2 separate regions of the Homo sapiens genome follow, and region 2 is linked to region 1. Evidence: fine-mapped expression QTL. A gene starts in region 1. The other region holds a variant in brackets. All regions are shown on one strand. Distances are from middle to middle. Region 1 holds the start of ING5 (inhibitor of growth family member 5). Region 2 overlaps ING5 (inhibitor of growth family member 5).

Region 1 (12,193 bases):
ATCACACCACTGTACTCCACCGTGGACGACAAAGTGAGACTGTCTCAAAAAAAACCCAAATGGTTCCTCCGAGCAGATACACAAACAAAAAGGGCCCAGAAAAAAAAAAAAAAAAAACAGGGATGGTCCTACATGAAGTGTATTCCGTCTGCACTTCCTCCAGCAGCGTCAGCTACCAAAGCCAGCCTTCCACTTGGCTATGCCCATTTCCGGGCAGTTTTTACATTTTGTTGCATGAGAGGCAGGAGTAGAGGTCAGAGGAAGAGCCATGGCCCCCGCCCCGCCCTCACCATCTCGTAGGTCTGCATGGCCAGCTGCACTTTGTCGTCACTGTATTCCTTGCACTTGCTGTAGGCGTTCTGGATCTTCTGCAGGCGCTCCACGCGCTGGTCTGGAGACAGCGTCTTCACCGTGGAGATGTACTCTGCAGCCAGGATGTCAATCTCTGCTTTCTTATCTGATGGAGAAATGGGGGAAAAGCTAGCCCTGCACAAGACACCATGATGTGCTCACCAGACTGGCAACAACTAAAGTCAGCCAACGCCAAGTTGTGGCAAAGATGTAGGCTGACATGAACTCACGCTGTGCTGGTGGGAGCGCAAGTGGGCAGAACCGTTCTGCACAAACAGTCTGGGATCGTGTGAATGTGCAGACTTTACGGCAACGTGCCCAGGACAGTCCCAGCTCTGAATGTTACACAGCAAGTGGTCACAGTGCCTTCTTCGACTCTCAAACATCCTGTATGAATAACTTGTAGCCACCTTTCCTATGACCTGGCATACTACTCTTTTTTCCCTTTTCTTTTTTTCCGGTAGAGCAGTCAAGAAAGAACACACTACTCTTAAATACCCTAAACAAACCTTATGTCACCTAAAGAAATCCACACGGGAAACATTCATAAGAGCAGAAAACAGAAAACAACCCCAATGTCCAATCCTCAGTAAAATGGAGAAATAAGCTGTGGTCCCTTCAGACAACAGAGTGCTACTCAGCAACAAAAAGAGCAAACTACAGCCACACACAGCAACACGGATGATTCCCAGAGAAGGTGACACGGAGCAAAAAGAGCAAGAAACAAAAGAAAACATACTGGATGATTCCATTAATATGAAGAGCAGAAACAGACACAACTCTTAACCCTTCAGTTTAGAGGGGTAAGAAAACTAGGCCAGGCGTGGTGGCTCACGCCTGTAATCCCAGCACTTTTGGAGGCCGAGGCGGGCAGATCACGAGGTCAGGAGATCGAGACCATCCTGGCTAACTTGATGAAACCCCGTCTCTACTAAAAATACAAAAAATTAGCCGGGCGTGGTGGCGGGTGCCTATAGTCCCAGCTACTCGGGAGGCTGAGGCAGGAGAATGGCGTGAACCCAGGAGGCGGGGCTTGAAGAAAGCCAAGATAGCGCCACTGCAGTCCGGCCTGGGCGAAAGAGTGAGACTCCATCTCAAAAAAAAAAAACAAAAGAAAACTGTTGAAGGCCATGCACGGCGGCTCACGCCTGTGATCCCAGCACTTTGGGAGGCCAAGGCAGGAGGATCACGAGGTTAAGAGATGGAAACCATCCTGGCCAATGTGGTGAAACCCCGTCTCTTCTAAAAATACAACAATTAGCTGGGCATGGTGTTACGTGCCTATGGTCCCAGCTACTCAGGAGGCTGAGGCAGGAGAATCACTTGCACCCAGGAGGCAGAGGTTGCAGTGAGCCGAGACCGTGCCACTGCACTCCAGCCTGATGGTAAAGCGAGACTCCGTCTCAGAAAAAAAAAAGAAAACTACTGTTAAAGGTGGAAGGTGACTGTCACCAAACTCAGGATGGTCACCCCTTGGTTGGGGAGGGGTGTCATGACTAGGAGGGTCACAAAGGCCTTCAGGTGCCAAAGGGCTTGATTTCTCCATCTCGGTAGCAGACAACAGAGAGGTTCACCTGGTAATATTTGTTAAGCAATCTATAATTGTTGCACATTCATTTCCTGAATATATGTTACATTTCACAATAAAATAACTCTCTGTATTCCCTAGTCAAGATGCTGTACCTAAGGAAAAAAACACAGCTATCTCAGTCTTGCAAAACATGTGCCCAGGCCGGGTGTGGTACTCACGTCTGTAATCCCAGCACTTTGGGAGGCCAAGGCGGGTGGATGAACCTGAGGTCAGGAGTTCAAGACCAGCCTGACCAACATGGAGAAACCCCGTCTCTACTTAAAATACAAAAAATTAGCAGGGTGTGGTGGCGCATGCCTGTAATCCCAGCTACTCGGGAGGCTGAGGCAGGAGAATTGCTTGAACCCGGGAGGCGGAGGTTGCGGTGAGCTGAGATCGTGCCATTGCACTCCAGCCTGGACAACAAGAGCGAAACTCCATCTCAAAACAAAAAAAACAAACCTGTGCCCAGCATAATGAATAAAAAATCTCAGGCCAGGCACAGTGGCTCACACCTGTAATACCAGCACTTTGGGAGGCCAAGGCGGGCAGATCACCTGAGGTTGAGAGTTTGAGACCAACCTGATCAACATGGAGAAACCCCATCTCTATTAAAAATACAAAATTAGCTGGGCATGATGGTGCATGCCTGTAATCCCAGCTACTCGGGAGGCTGAGGCAGGAGAATCACTTGAACCTGGGAGGCAGAGGTTGTGTTGAGCCAAGATCGCGCCATCGCACGCCAGCCTGGGCAACAAGAGTGAAACTCCATCTCAAAAAAAAAAAAAAAAAAAATTGCCACACCAAAACACATTATCATGAAATTTAAAACTTCAGAGATAAAGGAAACATCTCAAAAGCTTCTGAATAGGAATAACAAAAAAAAAATAGATCACACATATAAAGGACCAAGAATCCAAACGGCACCAGATTTTCTGCAGCAACGTGGAAGCTAGGAGACAAGGCAGCAATGTCGCCAACTTCCTGAGTGAAAACAATTGTCAACCTAGGATTCTATACCCAACCAAACTATCAGCTGAGTATGAGGCTAGAACAAACACATTTTCAGACATGCAATGTTACAAGAAAATCTACCTTCCTTTTTTTCTTTTTTTTTTTTTTTTTTGAGATGGAGTTTCGCTCTTGTTGCCCAGGGTGGAGTGCAATGGTGCGATCTCCAGGTGCAACCTCCGCCTCCAGGTTCAAGTGATTCTCCTGCCTCAGCCTCCCAATTAGCTGGGATTATAGGCGTGCGCCACCACACCCGGCTAATTTTGTATTTTTAGTAGAGACGGGGTTTCTCCATGTCGATCAGGCTGGTCTCGAACTCCTGACCTCAGGTGATCTGCCCACCTCAGCCTCCCAAAGTGCTGGGATTACAGGCATGAGCCACCGTGCCTGGCCAAGAAAATCTACCTTCCTATGTGCCTTTTTTTCAGGAACCTACCAAAGGAAAGGCTCTATCAAAACAGGAGAGCAAGGGCAAAAAGAAGACATTTAAGATTCAGGGAAGAGGGTCCCACACTGAAGAGGGGTGAAAGGAGATCCCAGGAAAACCTCAGGGCAACAAGTGTGCAGTTGGCATGGAAACAATCAGGACTGTGGCCTCCAGGACAGAGGGCTCTGCGGAAAGAAAGCACACACAGAACTGTCAGGGTAGACAGCCTGACAGACCACAAGGAAAAGCCCAGCTGGGGAGACAAGGGTCGAATGCAGAAAACAAAGCCAACAAACAGGGCCATGAGTAACTCTAAGAAATACACAAAGTTATTCCAAAGAGGTCATATAAGCACAGCAGGTGGCATGGCTCAGTGTTAAAGTACCTACACAGCTGCCCAATGGAAGTCCCATCACTGGTCTCACCACAAATTCTAACAACCTACAGCCAGGAGATGGGGGAGCCAGGTGAGGGCATGTGAGGGTGTGGGGGCCACTGGAGAAGTACAGCTGCCTGTGCCATATACGTCTGAACAACGTCTAAAACTGACGAGAGATAAAATAAGAAACAGCAACAAAAACATGTTGTTTAGAAACAGGGAGTTTAAGGGCCGGGCGCGGTGGCTCATGCCTGTAATCCCAGCACTTTGGGAGGCCTAGGCAGGCGGATCATGAGGTCAGTAGATCAAGACCATCCTGGCTAACATGGTGAACATGGTGAAACCCTGTCTCTACTAAAAATACAAAAAATTAGCTGGGTGTGGTGGCATGTGACTGTAGTCCCAGCTACTCGGGAGGCTGAGGCAGGAGAATCACTTGAACCCGGGAGGTGGAGGTTGCAGTGAGCCAAGATCGTGCCACTGCACTCTAGCCTGGGCAACAGAGTGAGACTCTGTCTCAAAAAAAAAAAAAAAAAAAAAGAAAAAAACAGAGTTAGGGCCAGGCGAGGTGGCTCACGCTTGTAATCCCAGCACTTTGGGAGGCTGAGGCGGGCAGATCATGAGGTGAGGAGATCAAGACCATCCTGGCTAACACGGTGAAACCCCGTCTCTACTAAAAATACAAAAAAAAAATTAGCCAGGCGTGGTGGCGGGCACCTGTAGTCCCAGCTACTCAGGAGGCTGAGGCAAGAGAATGGTGTGAACCCAGGAGGCAGAGCTTGCAGTGAGCTGAGATCACGTCACTGCACTCCGGACTGGGCGACAAAGCAAGACTCCGTCTCAAAAAAAAAGAAACGGAGTTAAATATCAAACGGCCAAAAAGTACTACCAAACTTTTAAAACAATGCACGCACTACACACTTTGAAAATTGAAAATATTTAAAAGAAAAAATTGGCAATAAATATTTTGATTGGAAAGGGTGATGGTTATAAAAACATGATATAAAGATGTGTAAGAACCCAAGAAACAATGTGGCTTCAAAAGTATCAACACCTACTGCAAGACACTGAGTGATACCCACGGCCCAGGGCTAGGCCAATGCCCCACTAACCTGGGTCCCCTCAAAACCCTCTGCCCCCAGCCTTCAGGAGCTGCTGGCTCCCACCTGTCAGAACTCAGTTCTGGTTGTATGGAGAGGTCTGAACCCACCTTCCGTCCTCTGGTCCAGCTCTCGCATCAGCTGGAAGTTCCTCTGAAGTTCGCAGGGAAGGTTCTCGATACCTGAAACGCAAAAACACAGAAGCCATGTACCTCTCAGCAGCAAGACAAAAATTCACCTCCAAAGGTTTTCTGTCTTTTTTTTTTGAGATGGAGTTTCACTCTTGTTGCCCAGGCTGGAGTGCAGTGGTGCGATCTTGGCTCACTGCAACCTACACCTCCCAGGTTCAAGTGATTCTCACGCCTCCGCCTCCTGAGTAGCTGGGATTACAGGCACATGCCACCATGCCCGGCTAGTTTTTGTATTTTTAGTTGAGACGGGGTTTCACAAGGTTGGCCAGGCTTGTCTCGAACTCCTGACCTCAGGTGATCCGCCCACCTCGGCCTCTCAAAGTGCTGGGATTACAGGTGTGAGCCACCAGGACTGGCCAAAAGTTTTATACTTCAAGTCTACAAGCCCACTCTGTATTCTGTCTCTGTCAGGGTTTGCGGAGCGGAAGGACTGTGATCTCATTTTTAGATGCAGGTACCAAACAGTGCTGACAAGAGGCTGTGTGCACACTTCGGAAGCTGTCAGAAGTCAAAGAAGGGAGAGGGAAACTTGGAAACCAACAGCACAGGCAGGGGAGGCCAACTGACCCCACCCTCTAGGCTGCCCCCCCTCAGTGAGCAGCATCTTCCAAGGCTCAAGCCAAAATCCCCTGGGTCCTCCTTGATCTTCCCCTACTTTACCCAGAAATCCAGTGCATTGAGCAGTGTAGCCACGCTGCCCACGCGACTTTATGCAAGGATAGAAATGTTTCCTCTCTCGGATGGGCGTGGTGGCTCATACCTGTAATCCCAGCACTTTGGGAGATCAAGACAGGCAAATCAGTTGAGGTCAGGAGTTCAAGACCAGCCTGGCCAACATGGTGAAACCCTGTCTCTACTAAAAATACAAAAATTATCCAGGCGTGGTGGTGCACAGCTACAGTCCCAGCTACTCGAGAGGCTAGGGCATGAGAATTGCTTGAACCTGGGAGGTGGAGGTTGCAGTGTGCTGAGATCATACCCTCCAACCTGGGCAACAGGGTGAGACTCCATTTCAAAAAAAATCAAAAAAAGAAAAAGAAAAGAAATGTTCTCTCTGAGCTGCCCAAGACAGTGGTGGCCATAGGGAGCTACTGAGCACTGGAAATGGGACTAACGCCATTCAATTTTTAATTTTACTTAAATAGTCCCTGTGGCTAGCGCAACCATTCCCCACAGTCTGCCAGGAGGACCCCCGTGCTGCTTTCGCGTCTGCTTTGTTACCCCCTAGACCAGGCCAACCTCCGCCCCCTGCACAGCTGACACAGGCTCCTAAGGGGGGCTGCCTCCTCCAGTCTTGGCCACCCTCCCATCTGCTGTTCACAGTTACCAGGCAATCATTTTAAACCTAACTCTATCTTATGCATCTGATGCTTCCAGCCCCAGTGTTTTCCCAGCTCCCCTAGAGGACAGAGGCACAGCCTCCCGGCTGGCACAGCCTCCCAGACACACACAAAGTCAACCCTCCTTGGGAGGCCAGCCCACTGGCTGGGCACCAGGATAGAGAAGGCCTCCCCTCCAGCGTGCTCCCCAGCTTGACTCTTCTACCCAGGGAACCCCCCACTACTCAGACCCCCAAGAGACAGCGGAGCACATGGGCAGAATCGGGCGTCCCTCTAGGGCAGCGGTCTCCAGCTCCAGGCCACGGCTCACTCGCCACTGTCTCAGCCCCTGGGCGGGTGCCAGGCCGAAGACCATGAGGATCCCCAGTGCAGCGCCCCCACAAGGGCCCTCCAGAGCCACCCGGCACAACCCCAAACACCGCGACCCCAAAGCTGTGCCCATCCCGGGCCGACGTCAGGGGTCCCGCGTGGGGTCTGCCCCTCTACGAGCGGGAGACCCTGAGCAGGCTGCTCGGCAGCGCTGGACCTTCCCTGGTGTGTAAAGTGAGGGAAAGCACCGTCCGCTCAGCCGCTGGGGGCGCCGACCTGCTGCCACCTGGAAACAGCACAGCCCGCCCACCAGGGCCGACTCGGCACCGCCCTCCCCGCCTCCGCGCCGCAGTCCCCAGTGCCGGGGAGAGACGCCCCGCGGCCCGCACGCCCTCCCCAGCCGCGGTCACACAAGAGGCCGGCGCACACGGGCGCACAGCCAGGCGGAGGCCCAGACCCCGGAGCCCCCAAGGCCCGGAGCCCCGCAGCGGGCGCCAGCTCCTCCTGCAGACGGGACAGGGACGGGCGGGACCTGGCGGGGCCGGGGCCGGAGCTGGGGGCGGAGATGAGGCGGGGCCTGGGTAGGGGCGGGACCTAATATGTGGGCGGGGTCGAGGCCGCAAGCCCCGCCCAGCATCGCCAGGCCCCGCCCCGCCGTGACGCACCTGGAATTGGCGCGACCCAGCCGGCGGGACCCCCCGCGCCCGCCCCCCGCGCCCTCCCCTCCCTTGCGGCCCTGCCCCGCCCCGTCCGCGCGCCCCCCGTCGCGCCCGGCCGCGCCCGCCGCCCTCCCGAGCCCACGGGGTCTGCATGCGGTGCCCGGCGCGCGGGGGGCTGCGGCACGGAGGACTCCGCGTGGGCGGCGGGCGCGGGGCCCGTGGGGCGCGCTTACTGTCCAGATAGTGCTCCAAGTACATGGCGGTCGCCATCTTCGTCCGCGGCCGCGCTCGGGGTCTGCGCGGGCGGGCGGTGCCGCGGGAGGCGGGGGCGGGGCGGTGCCAGCGCGCTCACTATTCATGAGTCGCGCGCGCTGATTGGTCGCGCCCGGGGGCGGGGTCGGACACGCCTTTCAGCTTCCGGCGGGCGGCGGGCTGCGGGGCCCGGGCGGAGGTTGTGGCAGCGGCGTCGGGCAGCGAGCAGGACCCAGGGCCGCAGCGGATCGGAGGCCGAGGAGGAGCAGGGGTTCCCGGCCCCACCGCCCGGCGTGCGGCCCAGGGCACCCAGGTGGGCGTCTCCCCTCCGCACCTGTCAGCGACCCCTGGGCCACCAAACGCAAACACGTGGTCCCGGGGACCTCACGCCCGTCCTGACGGCGCCCACGCGACCCCTGCTCCCGGCCGGGTCCCGGACAGGCCGCCACGAGGCCCTCCCTTCCCGAAGGCTCCTTGGGACCTGTCTGGCTCAGCGCCTTTCCCCCGGACCCCGAGCCCCCGGGGCCTCAGCCCGGCCTGAGCCGAGGGCCGGCACCGCGTGGCCCGGGCGAGCTGCCCCTCCCTCAGGGCCTGGGCCCTGGCGCCCTTCCCCCGCCAACGCCGCCCCTTCCCTCCGAGGAAAGCGGCCGCCCCGCCCAGCACCAGTGAGGGCACTGGCTCCTTTGCTGCCACCTCTCGAGGCAGGCAGGACCCGCACCATCTGGATGCCTTGGCCGAAAAGGCACGTGCGGCAGTATGATATAGTTAATAAGATGGCGTGCAAAGGTGTGCCGTAAGATGCATGCAAAAATACTGGAGAAGGCCGGCGCGCTGGCGCACGCCTGTAATCCCATCACTTTGGGAGGCCGAGGCGGGCGGATCACTTGAGGGCAGGAATTTGAGACCAGCCTGGCCAACGTGTTGAAACCCCGACTCTACTAAAAATACAAAAAAAAAAAAAAATTAGCCAAGCGTGGTGGCGCACGCCTGTAGTCCCAGCTACTCCGGAGGCTGAGCCCGGGAGGCGGAGGTTGTAGTGAGCTGAGATCGCGTCTGCACTCCAGCCTGGGCGACAGAGCAAGACTCTGTCTTCAAAAAAAAAAAAGAAAATTTTAAGAAAAAAAAAATACTGGAGAAACATAATTAAAATATGTTTCAGACTCGGCACGGTGGCTCACGCCTGTAATCCCAACACTTTGGGAGGCCGAGGCGGGCGGATCACTTGAGGGCAGGAATTTGAGACCAGCCTGGCCAACGTGGCGAAATCATGTCTCTACTAAAAATACAAAAATTACCCGGGCGTGGTGGCGGGCGCCTGTACTCCCAGCTACTCGGAGACTGAGGCAGGAAAATTACTTGAACTTGGGAGAGGGAGGTTGCAGTGAGAAGAGATCATGTAACTGCACTGCAGCTTGGGTGACAAGAGCAAGACTCCGTCTCAAAATAATAATAATACAAAAACTAGCCGGGCATGGTGGCAAGTACCTGTAATCCCAGATACTCGGGAGGCTGAAACAGGAGAATCGCTTGAGCTTGGGAGGCGGAGGTTGCAGTGAGCCGAGATTGCACCACTGCACTCCAGCCTGGCCAGCAGAGCAAGATTCCATCTCAAAAATAAAATAAAATAGGGCAGGCGCGGTGGCTCACTCCTGTAATTCCAGCACTTTGGGAGGCCAAGGCGGGAGGATCACGAGGTCAGGAGATTGAGACCATCCTGCCTAACACGGTGAAACCCCATCTCTACTAAAACTACAAAAAAATTAGCTGGGCATGGTGGCGGGCGCCTGTAATCCCAGCTACTCGGGCGGCCGAGGCAGGAGAATGGCGTGAACCCGGGAGGCTGAGCTTGCGGTGAGCCGAGATCGTGCCATTGCACTCCAGCCTGGGCGACAGAGCAACACTCCGTCCCAAAAAAAAAAAAAAAAAAAAAAAACTTAGCCGGGCATAATGGCTGGTGCCTGTAATCCCAGCTACCCAGGAGGCTGAGGAAGGAGAATCACTTGAACCTGGTACGTGGAGGTTGCAGTGAGCCGAGATCGTGCCACTGCACTCCAGCCTGGGTGACAGAGCGAGACTCCATCTTAAAATATAAAATAAAATAATTTAAAGTGTTTAAATATTAGTCTTTGGGGTGATTCTTCTCTGCCTCCAAACTGTGTAGCATCATCATGCAGTGCTCACCAGTACCCATGTCACTCCTCTTCCCACTTCACCACTGGACGCCCCCAAGCTGGGGATCAAACTCATCTCTGGCAGGTCTTTCATGGGTGAGGTGTGTCACTTCCCAGTCCTGTCTCCACTCCCTGTGATCTCAAGAGGACGTCCCAAAGGCTCCCCGAGCCCCAAGAACTGATGACCACTAGATGTAACGTGTAGGCCCCAGAACCCCCCGCCCCACCCCCAGCCACATCCTTGACTTCCGAGATGCAACGTTGCTGGTCACACAAATTAGCATAAGCTGATCAAAGGAGCAGTACTTTCATTATTTAAAATGCATTTTTAAAGATATTAAGCCAGCTGCTGTGACTCAAATCCGTATGATCACCATGAGAGGCTGAGGCGGGAGGATGGCTTGAGCCCAGGAGGTCTAGGCTGCAGTGAGCCATGATCAAACCACTGTACTCTTGCCTGGGTGACGGAGACCCCCACCTAAAAAAACAAGCTATGTCCCCCTTGGTGGACTCTTCCCTAAACCCCAGTCAAATATTGAAAACCAGAAACAATGTTTTTGCCACTATTATGTTCATTATAAAAATTCAGGCCAGGCATGGTGGCTCACGCCTGTAATCCCAGCACTTTGGAAGGATGAGGTGGGTGGATCACCTGAGGTCAGGAGTTTGAGACCAGCCTGACCAACATGGAGAAACCCAGTCTCTACTAAAAATACAAAATTAGCCAGGCGTGGTGGGCATGGGCCTGCAATCTCAGCTGCTCGGGAGCCTGAGGCAGGAGAATCATTTGAACCTAGGAGGCAGAGGATGCAGTCAGCTGAGGTCATGCCATTGCACTCCAGCCTGGGCTACAAGAGCAAACCCCTCCCCCCCCAAAAAAAAATTCAGCTGGGGTGGTGGCTCACGCCTGTAATCCCAGCACTTTGGGAGGCCAAGGTGGGTGGATCACCTGAGGTCGGGAGTTCGAGACCAGCCTGACCAATACAGAGAAACCCCATCTCTATTAAAAATACAAAAGTAGCTGGTTGTGGTGGTAGCTGCCTGTAATCCCAGCTACTTGGGAAGGTGAGGCAGGAGAATCACTTGAACCCAGGAGGCAGAGGCTGCGGTGAGCCAAAATCATGCCATTGCATTCCAGCCTGGGCAACAAGAGCAAGACTCTGTCTCAAAAACAAAAAAATTAAACAATACAGGAACTTTTAGCTTCCCACCTCCCCAGGGGGCAGGACTGTGATTGCCTTGTTCAGCTTTCAGTCCTAATGTTAGCAGTTTGAGTGCATCCTTACTGGCCTCATTTAATTATAGACTATTTTTCCATCAGTTTTAGGTTTATTGAAAAGTTGAAGAGAAAGTAGACTTCTCATATACTCCTCCACACACACACACACACACACACACACACACACACACACACACTCCTCTATTATAAACATTTTGCATTAATGTGATACATTTGTTACAATCGATGAAACAATATTGATACTTTTTTTTTTTTTGAGACCTCAAATTAGCTGGGCTCGGCTCACTGCAAGCTCCACCTCCCGGATCCACGCCATTCTCCCGCCTCAGCCTCCTGAGTAGCTGGAACTACAGGTGCCCGCCACCATGCCCGGCTAATTTTTTGTATTTTCAGTAGAGACGGGGGTTTCACCGTGTTAGCCAGGATGGTCTTGATCACCTGACCTCATGATCCTCCTGCCTTGGCCTCCCAAAGTGCTGGGATTACAGGCGTGAGCCACCACGGCGGGCCCGATACATTATTATTAACCAAAGTCCATCATTATTTCCATAAGGGTTCATTCTGCCTTGTGCTTTTTTTTTTTTTTTTTTGAGATGGAGCCTGGCTTCTTCGCCCAGGATGGAGTGCAATGGTGCAATCTTGGCTTACTACAACCTCCGCCTTCTGGGTTCCAGCCATTCTCCTGCCTCAGCCTCCCAAGTAGCTGGGATTACAGGCAGGCACCACCACGCCTGGCTAAGTTTTGTATTTTAAGCAGAGATGGGGTTTCACCCTGTTGGCCAGGCTGGTTTCAAACTCCTAAACTTAGGTGATCCACTGGCATCAGCCTTCCAAAGTGTTGGGATTACGGGCGTGAGCCACCACGCCCAGTGCCTTGTGCATTCTTATAGGTTTTGACAAATGTATAATGTCAGCTACCCCCCATTACATGTCATACAGCATAGTTTTGTGGCCCTAAAAATCCCCTGCGCTTCCCGATTCATCCCTCTCCCCCTCCCGAGGCCCCTGGCAACCACTGATCATTTTACTGTTTCCAGTTTGCTTTTTCCAGAATGTCATGTAATTGGAATCATACAGTATGAGCCTTTTCAGAATGGCTTCTTTCACTCAGCAATATGCATTTAAGGTCCCAGCGTGCCTTTCCGTGGCTTAATAGCTAGTTCATGTTTAATTTGAAAAATATTCCAACGTCC
Region 2 (12,193 bases), 22 kb before region 1:
GTGAGAGGCCGACTGTACCTCGTGATGACCAAGCTCTTCCCGGGTTCTGTTAATGCACTCCTCAAGGCAACATCTTGAGACCCATCAGCTCCTGTTATGTTTGTGTCCCCCAGAATTCGTATGCAGAAGCTGTAACCCCCAATATGGCCGTATTTGGAGATGGAACTTCTGAAGAAGTAATTAAGGTTAAAGTCAGTCACAAGGGTGGGGTCCTGATCCGACAGGACAGGCATCCGTAAAATAAGAGACACCAGAGAGCTCCCTCTCCCAGTCAGTTTCGTAGGCACACATGAGAAGGCAGTGTTCACAACCCAAGGGAAGAGCCCTGGACAGGCACCAGACAACCCCAGCGCCTTAATCTTGGACTTCCAATCTCCAGAAATATAAGACATTTTTCTTAAGCCTCCCAGTCTGTGGTATTGTGATAACAGCCTGATATGGTTTGGATTTGTGTCCCCGCCCATAATCCCCAATGTTGGGGGAGGGGCCTGGTAGGAGGTGACTGGCTCATGGGCGCAGATTTCCCCTTGCTGTTCTTGTGGAGGTAAGTGAACTCTCAGGAGACCTGCTTGTTTAAAAGTGTGGCACCTTTCCCCTTTGCTCCCTTTCTCTCCTGGTCTGCCGTGGTAAAACGTGCTTGCTTCCCCTCCGCCTTCTGCCATGATGTAAGTTTCCTGAGGCCTCCGCACCACGCTTCCTGTACAGCCTGCAGAACTGTGAGTCAATTAAACCTCATTTCTTTATAAATTACACAGTCTCAGGTCGTTCTTTATAGCAATACAAGAATGGACTAATACAGAGCCTAAGCTGACTCCAGCAGCTTCCAAAAGGCAAGTGCAACACGGTAAGTCTTGCCCTTCCAGAGCAAGCACAGTACTCCTTTAGAAAGCAACTGCAGCGGCCGGGCGTGGTGGCTCACGCCTGTAATCCCAGCACTTTGGGAGGCCGAGGCAGGCGGATCACGAGGTCAGGAGATCGAGACCATCCTGGCTAACACGGTGAAACCCTGTCACTACTAAAAATACAAACAATTAGCCGGGCATGGTGGTGGGCGCCTGTAGTCCCAGCTACTCGGGACACAGGCAGGAGAATGGCGTGAACCTGGGAGGCGGAGCTTGCAGTGAGCAGAGATTGCACCACTGCACTCCAGCCTGGGCAACAGAGTGAGACTCCGTCTCAAACAAAAAAAAAAGAAAGCAACTGCAGCATTCTCACACGTCTTCCTTGGAAGTCAACTTGAGCCCCAGCACTGGCCACTGAGCTTCCTGAGCAACCACCCAAGGTAAGGCACAGGGTCCTCCCCAGACCCCCAGCCAGCAAGCTCCGCAAACCACTCTCCAATCACTGCATACCCCTTCAGAATTCAATTTCACACACCTGTCTCTGGGCACAACACTGACATTTTACACCTGTTTCCCAAAATGATGCTGAGTCTTGGGGGTGGTTCCCCCATACTTTTCTCGTGGTAGTGAATAAGTCTCACGAGATCTGATGGTTTTTTTAAGGGGAAACCCCTTTCACTTGGCTCTCATTTTCTATTGTCTGCTGCCATGTAAGATAAGCCTTTCGTCTCCCGCCATGATTGTGAGGCCTCCCCAGCCATGTGGAACTGAGGGTCCACCAGACCTCTTTTTCTGTCAGGTGCGGTGGCTCACGCCTGTAATCCCAACACTTTGGGAGGCTGAGGCAGGCAGATCACCTGAGGTCAGGAGTTCAAGACCAGCTTGGCCAACATGGCAAAACCCCATCTCTACTAAAAATACAAAAATTAGCAGGGCGTGGTGGCACGTGCCTGTAGTCCCAGCTACTCAGGAGGCTGAGGCAGGAGAATCACCTGAACCCGGGAGGCAGATGTTACAGTGAGCCGAAATCATGCAGTGCCATTGCACTCCAGCCTGGGTGACAGAGCAAGACTCCGTCTCAAAAAAAGAGAAAAGAAAATTTTTTTTAAAAAAAACCTCTTTTTCTTTACAAATTACCCAATCTCGGGTATGTCTTTATCAGCAGCGTGAAAACGGGCTAATACAGATGCACTTTCAATTGTTTGTTCCAAAAAATACTTTATTTATTAAACAATATATCCATAATCTATAACATGATCCAAAAATACTGATATACATCTTTACATTATCTAATAAAAAGATTTACAACATTATCTTTCCTTTACAAAGGGAACATAGATAATAATTCCTTGAAAATAAAAATGTAACATTCATGTTAAAGCTGCATCATCGTTTTGGATGAAACGTGGTTAAAGGTGGACACCACAAAATACATACAGAGGAAGAAAGAAACTCCAACACAATCTCTCCTGAATGGGAACATTTTCTTACACTTCCCCTGGCTTAAAATTCCTCTCAGCACAAGTATTGAAGGCCAATCACTGCTCACTAAAAATTTAAGAAAACCTTAAGTCTTCAATGCCCATAATTAACATCCCTCACGGTTTTACTCTAAACCATGAAGACCTAACCTAGGACAGGGCAGACCCTCGGCTCTGGGGTCATGTGGGAAGCTGCTCTGGGCCAGCGTCATTGCTCAAAGCAGCCCCAGCCAGGGCTCCCAACGACAGGACAGGAGGCCAAGTCCGGCAGGGCTGCTGGACACCAGACAAGCTGGCCGGTGTCCCCATCAGTCCCAGCAAACCCTCCCACCGCCACCAGTCTGCACAGCTGCTTCTCGCTGCTCCAGGCAGACTGGAAAACACCCACGCCACAAAGCCCTGGCCAACAGTGAGACGGGCGGTCAGCTGCTGCTCAGGCAGCCACGTAGGCCTCCGCACGGCGTCCCTGGCCAACAGTGGTCTCATGTCCACCCGCCCAGGGGTCCCGTCCAGCATGAGACGGGCGGTCAGCTGCTGCTCAGGAGGCCACGCAGGCCTCCGCTTGGCATCCATGTCCCCAGCAGCAGCACCTAGGGCACATTCGCAGATGCAGAGGGCTCGGTTTCACCAGCTCCTGTTTTCACTGCAGCCTGCCTTCCCCTACAGGATTTCCTCAGATCACTGACTGATACCGCAGCACTGAAAACAAGGAAAATGGGTAGAACGCTCCTTCCCATCGAGGTCAATCGCACAGCCACAGAGGACCCACACCTTCGGCTCAGATGAAGCTGCCACAGTGACCCACTGGTTCCAGCCCACACACCCTCAATCCAAGAGATGGGTCTGGGGCCGGGCAGCTGTGGAGGGGGGTCTGGTCCGAGACCAAATCCTTGAATCACCCCCAGGGAGAAGGCGGCCAGGCCTTCTGGAGCAAGGCGTGGATGGTGCAAATGGTGTGGCTTCTGTGTCCCTGCAGGGCGGGGGCCAGGCCAGGGGCCATGACCTTCTTTTCTGGCCAAACGGCCACTCCTGAGTGTGTCTCTCCCACGGGTAGACAGCGTCAGCCACAGAGCACTCAGGATTCAGTTGGGTCCAAACTACAGCCCAAGGAATTGTCTCATTCTGCTCATGTTTTCTATGTTTCTTCCAAAACTCTATGCATATTATTTTGGTGATATTATTGTAAGTGGCAAAAGTAAACATTAAAAACACTAAGCACAGAAACTTGAAAAGAAAAGGTCAAAATTCAATACCTGGGATGGTGCACAGTGGCAGGCAGGACCACATCATCACGTGTCAGACAAAAGCGTCCCACAGGGAAGCCAGTCATCTTTCCCCAAAAAGCAGCGAGACCTCAGGAAGCCGGGCAGCCAAAAGCATCAACAACCCCAGCGCTTTCCAGGGGTAGCCACAGGTGTGAACAGCTCAAAGGTGGAGCGCAATATCAAATTCATTTCTGAAAAATTGCCAGGCGCTGTTTCAGCACAAACTCCCTGCACTTACCTATCCCTCTTCCCAAAAATGGTAAAAGAGAGAAAAACATTTTCCACAATGTATCCTCCACGATCAATAAACATCTGTGTTGGCCGGGTGCGGTGGCTCATGCCTGTCATCCCAGCACTTTGGGAGGTCGAGGCGGGTGGATCACTTCAGGTCAGGAGTTCGAGACCAGCCTGGCCACACATGGTGAAACCCCATTTCTACTAAAAATACAAAAATTAGCTGGGCGTGGTGGTGGACGCCTATAATCCCAGCTGCTCGGGAGGCTAAGGCAAGAGAATCACTTGAACCCAGGAAGCAGAGGTTGCAGTGAGCCAAGATGGTGCCATTGCATTCCAGCCTGGGTGACAGAGCAAAACTCCGTTTCAAAAACACAAAACAAAAAACAAAACACACACACACACACACACACAAAACCTGTGCTAACAAAAAGTTAAGTCATTAAATGAAAATTCATCTCCCAGCTGAGCGCAGTGGCTGACACCTGTAATCCCAGCACTCTGGGAAGCCGACGCAGGCGGATCATTTGACCCCAGGAGTTTGAGACCAGTCTGGCCAATATGGTGAAACCCCGTCTCCAACAAAAATACAAACTTAGCTGGGTGGCCAGGCGCGGTGGCTCACGCCTGTAATCCCAGCACTCTGGGAAGCCGAGGCGGGCAAATCGTGAGGTCAGGAGATCGAGACCATCCTGGTTAACATGGTGAAACCCTGTCTCTACTAAAAATATAAAAAATTAGCCAGGCGTGGTGGCGGGCGCCTGTAGTCCCAGCTACTCGGGGGGGCTGAGGCAGGAGAATGGCGTGAACCCGGGAGGCGGAGCTTGCAGTGAGCCGAGATCACGCCACTGCTCTCCAGCCTGGGTGACAGAGCAAGACTCCGTCTCAAAAAAAAAAATTAACATACAAAACCCACCCATCTCCAGTTTCACAGCCGTGGCGAAGGGTGTGAAGCACTGTAGCCTGCCCTCTCTGGCGCTTTCCCTTCTAAGCCGCAGGAAGGCACCGCTTGGAGGGAGCCCCTTCAGGCCCAGACACTGGCAGGGACGAGCAGCAGCAGTGGCCGACCGCCCGCCTGCACCTGCCTGGCACCTGCGCCCGGAGGATCCACTCCCACCCACACCCTCGGAAAAGGACAGGTGGCCCAGAGGCATCCGTGTGTTCAAGAACCGCAGAACATGAATGTGGACACCATCCCAACCAGGACTGTTCAGGGTGTTCTTGTTCTCTTGTTCTCACTCACTGACTACCAGCTTCTCGACGGGAGGGCCCCGTCTGAGACACAGAGCTTCACACGTTCCTTCTGCTTTATTTCCTCTCCCTAGTGAAACATTAAACACAGGAGGAAAAGATACAGATGTAGCCATCAGAAGGAAGTGAGGCTGTCATTCCAAATGGCCCCCCACCATGAAGAAACCCAGGCTTCTTAAATCAGGAACCTCACGTCTCAGTTTTCCCTCAGGTTTCTTTCTGTGGTGTGAGGACAGAAACAGGCGTCCCTGCATTCCTCAGCAATCCTCTCCTTCCTCTAAAGGCACGGGAGAGGATTTCCGAGCGCCTGCGATGCTGTGGGGAACCGCAGGCTGGGCACCGTCACCAACGCGTCACAACAGAGCAAATCTGCATAGCCTTCCCCAACTACCACCGAAAGGATGGCTCCGGCTCAGCTTGGTGAACGCTCATTAAACAAAAAGCACACTCGAGTTTCCTAGCTTCATTCCAGAACTGCTATTGTGGCACAACAAATTCACAACAAATTCACATCGGAGTCCCCTCGACCGGGAGCTGCGGGCCTGGGAATGCACAGCACAGGCAGAAGCATTCGTGGTTCGTCAGCTCCTGGCAGACGGGACTCACTTCACGGACACACAGACCCACGATCTTCATGCTATTAGGGTAATTTCATCTTCACAGTAAAAAATCACCAATTCCCAGAGAAACGGAGCATCAGCCCAGCTGTCGCACAGGGTCTCGCGGGTGCTGGTCACGGGACCTGCGGCCACTCCAAGCTAATGAAGAGCCGTTTACTCCGGAGGTGAGTCCCCGAGGGAGGACTGAAGTCCAAGCTAAAAAGGCGGCGCCAGCGAAGCGGAGGCCGCTTCCTCCAGGGAAGAGCCCCCAGCCCTCCCGGGCCC[A/G]TCCGAGGCGCCCCACGCGGGAGCGCACGGTGGCCGGAGGCGGCGCGGAGCCGAGTGTGAGGAGGGCAGCCGCCGCCACGGCAGTGGCCCCACGCGCGCCTCGGTGGCAGGTGCTCCAGCGGGCGGGGCACGCGGAGCCCGGGCTGTACCGGACAGTCCTGGAAAACCACAGGAAAGCTACGCGAGGGTGGCGGCCGCCCTCCGTGGACCAGGTTACCATGTCCCCGCCCGCACGCCCGGCCGGGCAGCCCGAGCTCACGCGCGCCCGCCCACGTCCGCCGGGGTCCCTGCTGATGCTCGGGGGGAGTCCTGTAAAAGCCACACTGAGGTCGCGGCGGCGAGTCCCTGCAAGGTCGCCCTTCTGTGCGAACAGGCTTTGGTGGTTCTTGTTCTAGGAAACATCCAGCGCTTCAACTGGCCACGGAGTTACTAAGTATCAACCGAACAAGGTAGTTTTAAAAGGAAGGGAAATATTGCGACACGAATGAAGGGACAGATTAACTTGCTCCTCGGATCCGGGCACACAGCTCCTCCTACTTCTTCTTCCTCTTTTCCTGGACACACCGTGGACAGAACCTGTGACAAGAAAGGCGCAGTGAGGCCCTGGGCGCCATTTCCGCCAGCGCGCAGGGTGCCCAGGGCCCGCCTCCCCATGTCTCCCAGGGCTGCTGGACGCCGGCAGGAGGGCACCAGGAGAGGCACACGCAGTGGGGCCGCGGCCCTCCCGCAGGGAAAATGCGCCGATGCACGTGCGGCTCTATGCAGGACGCCGGTTCTGAAGCTGACAGATACACCATCAATGAGCAAAACCGATTTGACACCCAGGCGTTCCTCCTTAACAGGTGGGTCCTTCTTCCCCGGCCGATGGCAGGGTCGCTGGTGCCCTCTGTCTGCAGTCTGTGGGGGCTGCAGGTACCAAGCACGCGTTGAGAGCATGGCAGCCCCTCAGGCCCACGGAAACCCAGCCAGGCACCCTGCACTGGCCCTGGAAGCTGCCGTCTCACAAGTGCTCCCTGGTGACTCTGAGCAAGTTCTGGAGCTGCACGCACAAGGGGCTCCTGAACAGAGGCAGCTGCTGACCACAGAGGACATTCCATAGGTTCCCCACGCAGGAGGCAGCCGACTCGCATGACGGCAACCGTCAACCACCGCCTGGCCCAGGCCCAAGCCTGCCCAGGGCCCTCCGCCCTAACAGCCTCCGTACCCCTTCTCAAAACCCTCGGTGCACCATCCCCCAGCCGCACGGCGTGGGGCACCACAGTGCCATGTGTCCCTGTGACAGGACAGCCTGTGTTGACGCCACATGACACCGTGAGCTCGGCCAGCCTCCGAGACACGGCATCCTTTCCCTGTGTCCTCACACCGAACACCAAGGATAACTGGCTCTTACCAACTCGGGCGAGTCTGCCGGAGTTTCAAACACGCTGCCACGATGACCTCTGAGTGCCACACAGAAGAGCACATTCCGATTTCATTTTCAGAACATAGATATCCATTTTTAGATTTTCAGCACAGGCAAACAAAGCCAGGTTTTTATCTTTTTATTTATTTATTTGAGACAGGGTCTTGCTCTCTCGCCCAGGCTGGAGTGCAGTGGCGCGATCTCAGCTCACTGAAGCCTCGGACTTCCAGGCTCAAGCCATCCTCCCGCCTCCGCCTCCCAGGTAGTTGGGACCACAGGCACGCACCACCACGCCCAGCTAATTTTTGTATTTTTTGTAGAGTTGGGGTCTCCCGATGTTGCCCAGACTACAGGTTTTTATTTAAATGAAATCTGAGGAACAACAATGCAGAAAGTTGCCATTGCCAAGGGGATGCAAGGGTCAGGTAGAGAAAACACACCCTTCTCCACTAGACAGAGCCAGGGGCAGAGCCCCAGATCCATGCCCCGGCTTCAGGGCTCACATCTCATGCTATATTTCCCAAATTTCCCTAGGGGACAAGAACCTCTCATTTCTGATTTAAGACGATCCCTACCTCCCAGAGTCCGGAAGGTTGTCCTTCAGGAGGGGCCATTAACGTGAATATCACGTAACCTGGTAACCACCATTCCTGGGTGACGGCATCCCTCTGCCAGCTCGGACAGGCACAGCAGCAAAGGGGGGATAAAGCCACACCCAGAGCAGCCACCAGCCAGCCACACTCCTTGAGGCCACAGTGGGGCATGCCTACGTGGCTACCGTGTCCCGCTAAGCCCGGCAAGATTCTGCCATGGAGCACCTTCTCCTGGGGAGGCCAGCAGCGCAACACCCAGCAGACTGGGAGAAAACAGAGCGAGCGTCCCCACACTCACCATTTTCCTTTGGGTTTCGTGGTAAGGTCCACGCAGGCAAAGTGAAACCACTCAATTGGACACTGCAAAGTAAAGGGAGAAACCGCAGTCAACACGCCTCATGTTCTGTATGCAAAACACAAGAAATGCCAACATCCGCCAGCCCTGCCCCACACAAGACCCCGCCCCATGGCGCGAATCCTGCAGGCGACACTCACGTCTGGATTGTCACAGCCAATCATCTCCCCATAGGAGACCTGGTGGCACAGGCAGTACGTGGGTTCGTTTGGGTCCACGGGCATGTCCAGCACATCAGAGGGGTGCACGGACAGGATGGTGTCAGTGAACTCAGACCTGCAGGGGACAGGGCACAGGCACCACTGAAGGCCATGGTGGGAAGTGAGGCGGCACGGACACCACGGGCCCTTCTGTCTCTGACTTAAGGCCCCCTCACCCCAAAACTGTGAAGACAATCATTCCAAGGGGGAAATTGGTACCGTGCTCTGAGCGACACATAATGAATAAGCTTGCTTCCATTTTTCCCATTGTCCTTTAGAAATGAATGCGACTCCAGGGCCAGCCACTGCAGTCATGCACTAACTGAATACACACCTTGTGGACGTTTTCTTCCTGGAGCACACATTTTCAAAACCTCAATAACCCCTCTGAACACGCAATGTTCTAAGAAGGCGCAGCAAGAAAATCATTAAGTATACGAACAGATTGTCAGCTGATGCTAGAAAGAACAGTTACCCACAAAAATCCAGGAACAGCAGCAGCTGGCAGCAGAGGGGTGGAGACCTCGCGCCCACCTTCGGGCCCAGGCAGGGGCATGGGGGCACAGAGGGCCCCCAGGAGGCCGTGAAGCGCAGCACTCACCCACAGCACCGGGGTTCTGGTCCCACTCTGGGGACGAGTCCACTCTCATCTCGGTCCCTCCTCCCAGACAGGACTCCCCCGGGGACCTCTGGACTCAACCCACTTCTGGGCCATCCCTCCAAAGACCCCGGCCCCTTTGGAAACAAGCACACGTCACCTCTGCCAGCAGACGGCTGACACCTGAGAGAAGCCTGCCAGCCTCCCACTCCAGACTGACAGGTGTCAGAGCAGCCCGCACAGTCAACAGCTCTCCCGTAACTGTGACCTCCTCCCAAGAGAACAGCCATGCGTCCTGCGCCCGGGCCCTCCACGCACCTACTCAGGCACCTCTGCCCCAATACTGACTCAACCAGCAGCTCCCCACACACTCCCTGGACCGCCCACCACCCACCCAGCTGTCCACCTGGCACAGGGCCCCTTCCGACCACACACCATCCTTGTCACTCCTTCATCCCCATCAGCTCCCACGTGGGTTTCTACACAGCAGCCTGGCAGGTGTTCCACCCCGTCTATGCCTCCCTCCAAGCCTGCCACCTGTAGCACCATGGCCGTCCCACCAGGACCACAGACCTCAGGTGGAGACTTTCCTGTTTGAAAGGGATGCACTTAGGGGGAAATTTACGCTTTTATATTTCAGTATTTTTCAAATAAACTTACAAGCTGCAGGTACTATAGACAGTGTATTCCCATTAGTACAGAAAGAAAAAGTATCTTCCCTATCCCACCCTCCAACCCACGAATATCTAGTTGGTATGTAAACACAGCAGGTTAGCAGGAGGAACGTGGCCGTGAGAAAAACAGTCACGATCAGGGAAAGCCAAGGAGCAGAAGTCTGGGTCCCAGAGGGAATCAACACTCAGCTTTTCCTTGGATACCTGTCTAAAGCTTTTCTACGCCTTTGCAATTGCCTGTACACATACACACACACTCGGGCTCAGCATGCACCCGGCCTCCCCGCTGCCCTCTGGCACAGGGGCGCCCACCTAAGTCTGTCCTTTGCAGGTAATCTGCTCTTCTGCTCTTTCTCTCTGTCTGGGAATAGACAGGGGTTTCTCTTTAGAGCTGAAATCCATCAGCGTCACAAGTCCAGGTCCAGGTGCTGCCGACACTGCTTTCAAGCAACAGTCTCAAGTAGTCTTCGGGTCTCTCCTCTGACAGCAGCACGCAAGGGTCTACGTCTCAGCCTCCTGCCGATTCCGGGATGCCACCTGTGGCTTCACCTCCAAGGGGCTCCTGCGGTCTCCTCGAGTCACCTCTCACCCGCGGAGAGCAGGGCAGCACCCTCTGCTGCCAACCGTCCCCGAAACGCTGACGCCCTCCTCTTCTGCGCCGAGTCCAATTCTGTCCACAAAGCCCGACCTGACATCTTGAGCTGCCACTTGACCTGTGTCTCAGCATCACCAGGTTCGAGGGCGCTGGCCAGATTTGATGGCTGTGGGAGAGGGCCGGGGGCCTGAGGGGACCGCCCAGCAAGGGCACCCCAGAAGCTGAGGCCACCGTGCAGGCCTCACTGGCCTCTCAGTCTCGCCTGAGGGAGCGCCATGGCGTGTGGCCAGGGAGTGCTGCTATCAGCCCTGAGGGAGGCAACCAGGAGGCCATGGGGAGCCCTGTCCCTTGCACAGGCCAGGGTGACCCCAACTGTCAGCGGCTGCTGACTCCCTTCAGCACCACTGCCACAAGAGGCACCCTCTGTGCTAACTCCCCAGGGTGTGGCAGGCACCCCTCGCCAGACGGTGCCAGCGAGCCCTTCCGCGCCCGGCCCCGATGGCTTCCCAGCACTCCACGTGGCTCCTAGCAGGGGGCTGGCTGCCTGTCCAAGCCCCGGGATTCCAGGTGCTACAGGTGACACTGCCCTTCATCCACACACACAGGTTCTGCCTCGCCAGAGCAAGGCCACAGGGCAGCAACAGTGCAGGGGGCAGCCTCAGGTCACGGGATCTCAGACGAGACACGGAGCATCTGTGCAGTCTAGGAACACTGCATTCCAGGAAGAGCCCCGGGCACGTGGGGAACAGGCCTGAAGAGGGCAGTCCACAGGGACAGGATGGTGCGTGCGCCTGGGTCCCCAGCAGGGAACAGGACCTGCCTTGAGGCAGAGCGGCCTGGCACCACAGCGTGACCACGAGGGGCGTGAATACCCACTGTGCTGATGGGTCAGGGACGCGCACCACAGAACTCCAGAGCCCAGGGGCAGGCGGGCTCCTGCACACACCCAGGATGATGCCCTTGGAGGCACCCGAGTGCACACTCCCGCCCCGGCAGGCCAGGCTTTGGGTCCAACCGACTGGTCCTCAGGATGACCCGTCTGCCCACCTGCACCATCCTCCTGTCCCTCTGGAAGGGGCCTCCTTGGCGCCTTGGACGTCAGAGCCCAGCTTCAGAGCTGGCCTTACCAGCCTGTCTCGACGTCTTGCAATGGGACAGGAGCAGCACTGCCACTTGGGGGCACAGAGAAGAAAGAGATTCACACACAAGCTAGATCCAGAGCCGCAGGGCCCCGCAACTGTCGCCATCGGTGATCACCCTTCTCATCTGTCACTACTGGGACCTGCACGGCAGGCAGCGCTGAGCTCCCAGGCTCCGCATTGCTACTAAACAGTGCTGGTCAGCGCACTGTCAGGACAGGAAAAGCCATGAGGCCACAGTGGATCTTCCTGTGTTTGCAGAGGTGCTGGCTGTTCCTGAGGTCTCTGAAGCTGGGCAGAGCCCTCAGGGAGGAAGCCCCGACCCCAACAGGGAGCTGGAGTCTCCTTCACCCCCACGAGGACCCCCAGTGCCTGCATTCCTTATGCCTAGCATACCCTTGAGAAACAGCACTGGGTGAGGAAGAGACCAGGAGGAGTCCCACTTTCACGCAGAAAAGGCACGGTCGGGACAGGGCCTTCAGGTTCCGAGCAGGAAGGAGCAGGAAGACTCAGAACGCTGTTGCCACTGAGTTAGAAAACACAAAACCCAGCAAGTCACAAAAACCACATTCTCAAAGATGTCGGGGAGCTGTGGAGCAACAAGAGCTAGATGACCTGCAGCCAGAGTGGGGGGTGTTGGGGGGTTGGGGGCGGCGTCCGCCTGCCTCATGCACTGAGTG

What was found.
Region 2: its variant is fine-mapped to the expression of ING5 in thyroid (GTEx, PIP 0.92).

The regions. Positions count from the first base shown.
Region 1 is chr2:241,697,480-241,709,672 of GRCh38, reverse strand. ING5 (inhibitor of growth family member 5) reads right to left here and starts at 7,634. Exons shown (of 8, transcript NM_032329.6): 1 at 7,571-7,634; 2 at 4,949-5,020; 3 at 291-457. The coding sequence starts at 7,607. RefSeq lists enhancers at 6,516-7,145, 7,384-8,216 and silencers at 6,871-7,430, 7,615-7,778, 7,521-8,340.
Region 2 is chr2:241,719,329-241,731,521 of GRCh38, reverse strand. It overlaps ING5 (inhibitor of growth family member 5), which reads right to left. Exons shown (of 8, transcript NM_032329.6): 6 at 8,448-8,583; 7 at 8,251-8,312; 8 at 2,044-6,533. The coding sequence ends at 6,491. Among named protein-coding and RNA genes, the nearest start is that of D2HGDH, 9.2 kb to the left of the region's middle. The variant A/G (reference allele first, on the strand shown) is at 5,958.